Homo sapiens: one gene and its partner. The protein of the gene in region 1 interacts with the protein of each later gene in a pairwise test. Each region holds a gene or a part of one and is shown on either strand. Other genes may lie near its edges.

Region 1 (3,751 bases):
TAGTTTTTTTTTTGTTTGTTTTGTTTGTTTGTTTTGAGATGGAGTCTTGCTGTGTCGCCCAGGCTGGAGTGCAATGGCACGATCTCGGCTCACTGCAACCTCTGCCTCCCAGGTTCAAGCGATTCTCCCGCCTCAGCCTCCTGAGTAGCTGGGATTACAGGCATCCACCACCATGCCCGGCTATTTTTTTGTATTTTTAGTAGAGACAGGGTTTCATTACGTTGGCCAGGCTGGTCTTGAACTCCTGACCTCGTGATCCACCCACCTCAGCCTCCCAAAGTGCTAGGATTACAGGCGTGAGCCACTGTGCCTGGCCAGAATTAGGTTTTTATAAATGTGAAGTATTAGATTCTTATCAATCGGCAAAAGTAGAACTGAGGAACTATATCATATGCTTATAAACTGATTTCTTCTTAGTTTTTACTCCTATGATGTTTCTGTTGAGACCAGTTGACAGAGTAGGAGTGTCAGTATGGAAAAAGCATGGATCATTTTGAAACATGGATTATTCATCAATTACATGTGTTTTAGAATGGAGTCAGTGATATACTCTTGGAGATGATCTCCCCCACCCCCCATCTCCTCTCCTTTTCCTTTCCCCACATCTGTAGCCACTTCCTGTCAGCGAAACCCAGAAGAAAAACTTGACAGAAGCAAAGGGCATCCAGAGAATTATGATCCCCAGGTTGTAGTTCCAGTTCTGTCATGTCCTAAGCGGTCATCTCCTCTCTGGGTCTCAGGTTTCTTATGTATAAGATAAGTAGGAGATTGGGGCCACAACACCTGAGACTAAAGGAATTCTAAGTTTTCATTACTCTATGGATTCCACCTTTGCTAGCTTGGGACCTGGCAGGTCTCAGCAGCTGGTCATGTAGCTAATTCTCAAAGCAGATAAATGCCTGCAGGATAACTGTGAATTGACTCTAATCACAGCAGAGTCCAGCTGCTTCAATAGATGCTGGTGCCTTTGGCTGCTTCCCGGAGCCACCAGCCAACCCAGAGTTGAAGCTGGCTGGAAAAGCAGATATGTTGGAGAGGCCAGCATCATCTCTAAACACAGCATCTGGGAAATACCCATGTCCCCAGAAAGAGGTCATTGAAATCCTTCACTTGGTGGTGCAGTGCAGAGACTCAGGAAAACCAGGCTTTGAGTCCTGACCCTGCCACTTATACCAGCGGTGTGACCTTGGGCAAATTCTCTGGCCCTATGTTATCTTCCTCCTCCATACAATGAGGGTAGAAATAGAGCCACCTTGCAGAAGTATAGTAAGGATTAAGGTCCCAGGAGGCCTAACAGTACCTACTAAGCAGAGGTCCTCAGAGGTACTTAATAAATGGTAGTAGTAGTTATTATCCTGTGCCCTTTGTTCACAGGAGTCTCTTACAGGGGTGTTGGTCTCAGTGCTCCTCCCCATGGCCAGGCTGTATTGGCTCATGCCCAAGGCGTAGCCTTGCCAGGGAGCCTGGTACAGAGATGCTGCTGATTGGGATGCTGATTAAATTCCCTGATTGAGGAGCCTCAGCATTCTGGCCCAGAGCAGGAGGGCCAGCAATATTTAGCACAATCTGCTTGGATCCTCAATTAAATTGTTTTTCCAAACTGCCCTTTTCAAGGTCTTGTCCTCTTTCCTCACCTCTTTCTGGCCCCTTCTCTCTGGGTCCTTGCCAGAGAAGGGAAACAAAGCCTTGTGGGGCTCCATCTGCTTCCCCCTATCCAGAAGAAGGTGACAAGGCTGTCTTCGTTGCAGAAGATGTGGTTAAAACAAGCCTTGGCTATTCAAGGTGGCTGCAGTCTCATCCTGGAGGCTAAAGTCTCTGCGCATTCCAGGTTGATCTCTGTTTTCTTGGCAAAACTGAGTTCTCAACTCAAACCTGCCTCTCCCTTCCATCCTTTATCCCGACAGCTCGCAAGTGCTTTGCTGGGAAGGACGATTAAGTGTCACTTAGTGTATTTTTCCATTTTCCTGTGTTCATCTGGTAAAAAGAAAATAAAACAAAATAAAGGAGGCCCAGGATTGAACTGTCATTATTTTTTAAATGGAGAGAGAAGGGGTCACATGACTGCGAGTAACTGATTTAGCCAAGTGGCTGCAACTCCGAGTTTGCTGCAGAGCCGCCCCCTCCCGGCGGGGGCGCTGACGTCACGGAAAAGCCCCGCGGCGGGTCGGCTGGGCTGGTTATAAACCGCCCGGCCGCGGCGGCTGCAGGCGGCGGGCAAGGACGGCGGGCACAGCGCAGCACTCCCCGCTCGTTGGCCCGGGTATCCCAGCGCGGACCCACGCGATACGCTGACGCCCCGACGCCGATCCGGCCGAGCCAAGTAAGGGGGACGGCCCGAGACGGAGAAGGGAGAGAGTGGGAGTTTCCCAGCCCGCAGAACTTTCGAAGTTGAGAAAAGAACCCCTGGAACGTGCGCTCAGCACTGGGATTTTCTGGTAGGGGTCAGAGCTTCAAGTGCAAAGGATGTCGCTTCTCATCAGCAGGTTCCTTAGTTCAATTCGGTAGAAGGGTCACCTCCCTCTACAGATCGAGTGGTCAGAGAGGGCAGCCCTTAATGATGCTTTATGTATTTGTTGTTTGAATGTAAGTCTGCCAACTGAGGTGCTGCTTTTGAGACTAAAAAACCGGCTGGTCGTCCTGGTTAGTGGCGAGATGTTGGGGTACGGAGTGTGGGGGTGAGGGTGGGAGAGGAGTGTTTGTGCATCTTGCTGATTGCAACGTAAGTACTTATACTTTATCACCAGTAGCCGGAAAAACAGACCTCCCGGCTAGGGGAGGCAGTCTGCAAAGGGAAAGTTGTAGAGAAGTTGTTGAATATCATTTAGGGGAGTCTTCAGCCTTCTGATTTGCTTCAAGAAGGGGATCTGAGAATGGTGGCTCAGGCCTGTGATCTCAGCACTTTCGGAAGCCGAGGCAGGAGGATCACTTGACCCCAGGAGTTCGAGACCAGCCTGGGCAACATAGTGAGGCCACTGTCTCTACCAAAAAATAAAAATAAAAATAAAAAAACTAGTGGACGTGGTAGTGCAGGTCTGTAGTCCCAGCTACTTGGGAGGCTGAAGTGGAGGATCTCTTGAGCCTGGCAGTTGGAGGCTAGCTACAGTGAGCTATGATCGTGCCACTGCACTCCAGCCTGGGTGACAGAGCAAGACCCTGACTCAAAAAAGGAATCTGAGTTGAATTAAAGAACTCTTGAGAATGGATGTGGTTTTTTAAGAATGAGGCACTTTCTCTGCAAATTTCATAGGTCTGAACATGAGCAGGTCATTTCTCTGCCAGGGTGTCTAGGTTTGGAGCCGGGATGTTTTAAAAGTGGTATCTGTGGGTAAGAGGGCACAGCTGAGGCATAAACTTTAAACAGAAAATTTCCCCCCTACCCCCAATAATGGCAGGTGGATGCTCTCCAGGCAGCTGGAGAGCATCAAGGCAACTTTACTAAACATGGAAGTTCCAATAAGTGCCTGTCCAGTCCAGCCAGGGTTGCAGTGGGCAGGGGAGGGGAGGGTGATGTCATTGCCACGTGTTTCCCACTGAGGCACAAAACCTGCTGGACACTGGTGCAATTAAGAGCCAAGTTTAGACAAGAGCAGCTAACCTGACCAGCTGGTCCCCAGCAACATTAACTTGTTGCTTTTCAAGCCATCTTTGGAGTCTGCTGGTTCTTTCCAGCTGCCTTTGTGCCAGCTCTGAGTGCAGCTCTTCTTTCATCCAAGTCTGCTTTGAGGAAGGGGGAAGCCCATGGGCAGTGGGT
Region 2 (3,751 bases), on another chromosome or scaffold:
AAGCTATGTGTGATGCAGTCCTTTGGGTTTATGGATGTGTAGCAATTTACACTTTGACATGACAGGTTACAGATAGTTGCCTAGTATTTAGGATGACTAATAAGCAGACCCTCAGAAAACCACCTCTTAGGGGAAGGTATCTGGAATTAAGACTGTTCCAAAGTATCCAAGTTGATTACGCCAAGATGCCCCAAATTGGTTGTCTAAAATATTTATTAGTAATAGTAGATCACCTTACTCATTGGGTAGAAGCTATTTCCTTTCAAGTGCAACTGCTAATAATGTAGTCAAAACATTAGTTGAAAATATTATACCCAGGTTTGGATTAATAGGAAACATTGATTCAGATAATGGAACTCATTTCATTGCACATGTCATTAAGAAATTAGCCCAGGTACTGGATATAACATGGGAAATCATACTCCCTGGCACCCACCTTCATCAGGAAGAGTGGGGAAAAAAATGAACCAAACTCTAAAAAGCCACTTAAGCAAATTAGTCTTAGAGACTCGGTTGCCATGGACTAGATGCCTTCCCATTGCCCTGTTGAGAATCCGAACTGCTCCTCAGAGAGATGTTGGCTTATCCCCTTATGAAATGTTGTGTAAGTTGCTCTATTTGCACTCCGCTGCTGACATTCCCATGTTCGAAACAAAAGATCAGTTTCTCAGAAATTATATACTTAAGTTTATCTTCCACTTTCTCTTGCCTCAGAACTAAAGGTCTTTTAGCACAGGCACCACCCCTAGAGTTTCCAGTACACCAACATCAGCCTAGGGACCACATCCTTGTCAAAAGTTGGAGGGAAGGAAAACTTGAACCAGCTTAGGAAGGACCCTGCCTAGTGCTTCTAACCATTGAGACCACAGTTCAAACAGCAGAAATGGGATGGACTCATCACACCCAGGTCAAAAGAGCACCACCTCCTCCAGAATCATGGGCAGCTATTCTAGGGCTTACTCTAACCAAGCTAAAGCTAAAACGGGTTTGATCCTCTTATGTTGCATCTCTTCTTTTCCCCATCTATTGCTAGTCCTCTTGTTATTAATGTAACTAGGTCGAGTTCACCCCAAACTATTACCTTTGATGCTTGCCTTGTGATGCCCTGTGGAGATGTGCCAAGCCAGAGGCAACTCTCCACTTCAGAAAAGTATCTTTGTCCTTCCTAGCTCTTCTCAGACTGGAATTCTGTTAACTGGGATAAGTTAGCTTGGGAAGAGTTTGACGGAGATTCCAGTATAAACTGAGAGTCTTGCCTTCCCAATACAAAGCTTTTATGCTGTAGTTGGTCCAACATTCTGTGGACCACTAAAGAGCAAGAATAGATTGCCCCAAGCAGTAGTTGTAATTTCCTAAAGCTATACATTCATTTTACTAAAGGAACAGCTTCCCCTAACTGTCAGCTAAATCAGTACAATCCAGTACAGGCTATTATCTCAAACCCTCTAAGTTCTTCCCCTTCTCTAAGCCAATTTCCTTCTTTAAGCCAGTTTTATAATATGGGGGCTGAGGTTTCAGGAGCAGACCCTATCAGATCCTTTGAAATATTCTTCATTGCTCCCCCACCGCCTACACCTTCCCCTAAGCCTTCTTCCAGAACCTCCCACAACAAAACTGTTGTTCTTCCTCCATCTAATGACAAGACGAAGGTAGCTATTGTAGAAGTCAAAGTCCTAAAAGAAACTTTAGCAATTGAGACGGGATATCAAAATGCCAATGCCTGGTTAGAATAGATAAAATATTTCATCCGCACTTTAAACAAAAGCAATTGTTATGCTCGTGCGCATGGCAGGCCAGAGGGCCAGATTGTCCCCTTTCCACTATGATGGTCCTCCAGTCAACCAGGCATGGGCTGTATGGTAGCTCTTTTTCCAGGATTCCACAGCCTGGGGTAACAAGTCGTGCCAAGCTCTTTCTCTGCTATATCCCGAAGTTCAAGACCCCACAGGTTAGCCCCCGAGGGCCATCCAGCTTCTGTCTCCCGACACTGAGTTCATTTTGTGTCTCTCACGACAAAGAGGAAACTTAGCATCCCTTAGAGACCTAAAAGGATGCGGTGAGCTTAAGACTTTCCAAGAGCTCACCAACCAGTCAGCCCTTATACACCCCCGAGCAGATGTATGGTGATATTGTGGTAGACCTTTGCTGGACACTCTGCCTAGTAACTGGAGTGTCACTTGCGCCCTAGTGCAGTTGGCTATCCCTTTCACCCTGGCATTTCATCAACCAGAGAAAGAAAAAAACACAATGTCATAAAGCAAGGGAAGCCCCTTATGGGTCTTTCGACTCCCACATTTATTTAGATGCAATTAGAGTCCCACGAGGAGTACCAAATAAATTTAAGACCTGAGATCAAATAGCTGCTGGATTTGAGTCAATATTTTGGTGGGTGACAATTAATAAAAACGTAGATTAGATAAATTCCACCTATTACAACCAACAGCGGTTTATTAACTATACTAGAGATGCTGTTAAAGGAATAGCTGAGCAATTAGGGCTTACTAGCCAGATGGCTTGGGAAAATAGAATGGCCTTAGACATGATTTTAGCAGAAAAAGGGGAAGTTTGCATCATGATTAAAACTCAGTGTTGTACCTTCATCCCAAACAATACCGCCCCTGATGAAAGTATAACAAAGGCATTGCAAGGTCTAACTGCTCTGTCCAATGAGTTAGCAAAAAACTCAGGAGTAAATGACCCCTTCACAGGGTGGCTAGAAAAATGGTTTGGTAAATGGAAAGGGATCACAGCCACCATCCTTACTTCTCTTGCAATTGTAGCAGTAGTGCTTATCCTTGTTGGATGCTGCATCATACCTCGCATCCGTGGGCTAGTCCAAAGACATACAGAAACAGCCCTTACTAAAACTTCTCTCAGTTCCCCTCCACCATATTCTGACAAGCTCTTTCTTTTAGAAAACCAAGCAGAACAGCTATGCCAAGACATGTTAAAGAAATTTGAAGAGGAAGACCTGTAAAATTCAAAAGGGGGATATTGTTAAGTACAGTGAGTTCTGAGTTCCTCTGGGAACCAGTATGTCAGTATGTTCAGCTTTCTTATACTTTGTTCTCCATTTTAAAGTTTAACTTCCTCATTCTTTACACCTCCTTGCCCTAGTTTCAGTAAACAACCCCCTTCTAGCCTTTATACTCACATATTTAGAGTCCTTAGTCATCCTTAGTCACCTGCTCTGTCCTTAGTCATCCTTAGTCACCTGCACTGTAACCATCCTTCCTGCCTAAACTGCTCACCCCGCCACTCTGCCTCATACCCAGATAGCCTATCAGAATTAGTTTAGACTGTGCGGTCCAACCCTAGCCAATAGGGGAATGACACAGTAGTAGGGACTAGCTGCATTAGGGATAAGAACCCCTTCTCCTCCCATGCCCGGTATGCTCTTGCGACCACTCCAGGCACGATTGGCACCCTTCTGCAGAAGTAAATTGCCTTGCTGAGAAAGCTTTTTGCCGGAGTGCTGATTCTTCTTTGCGGCACCAAGCATTTGTTTCTAACATCAACTATCTACTTTCATTTTTCAGGTTAAGAAATCTCCAAAACAGTTGGCTGCTTACATAAATAGGTAAGAGTTTCTTTAAAGTTTGTGGGGAACAACAAATATGAAAGCTGGGTAAGGATGACAATAAGGGAAAAATAAGCATTCTTTTATCATAATAATAATTAACTTATTGTCAAACAGCTTCTTTATGCCAGTATCTGCACTAATAAACACATCAATATTGTCTCTGCTCCT

The links. The genes of interacting proteins can lie anywhere in the genome.
Region 2: the proteins of GEM (region 1) and KATNBL1 interact in binary tests that used the Homo sapiens proteins (3 or more experiments, as listed by UniProt).

What each region holds. Positions count from the first base shown.
Region 1 is NC_000008.11:94,260,774-94,264,524, reverse strand, and holds the start of GEM (GTP-binding protein GEM), read left to right. Parts: upstream 1-2,205; 5' UTR 2,206-2,435; intron 2,436-3,751. UniProt on the Homo sapiens protein: Could be a regulatory protein, possibly participating in receptor-mediated signal transduction at the plasma membrane. Has guanine nucleotide-binding activity but undetectable intrinsic GTPase activity.
Region 2 is NC_000015.10:34,154,473-34,158,223, reverse strand, and holds part of KATNBL1 (KATNB1-like protein 1), read left to right. Parts: intron 1-3,539; coding exon 3,540-3,580; intron 3,581-3,751.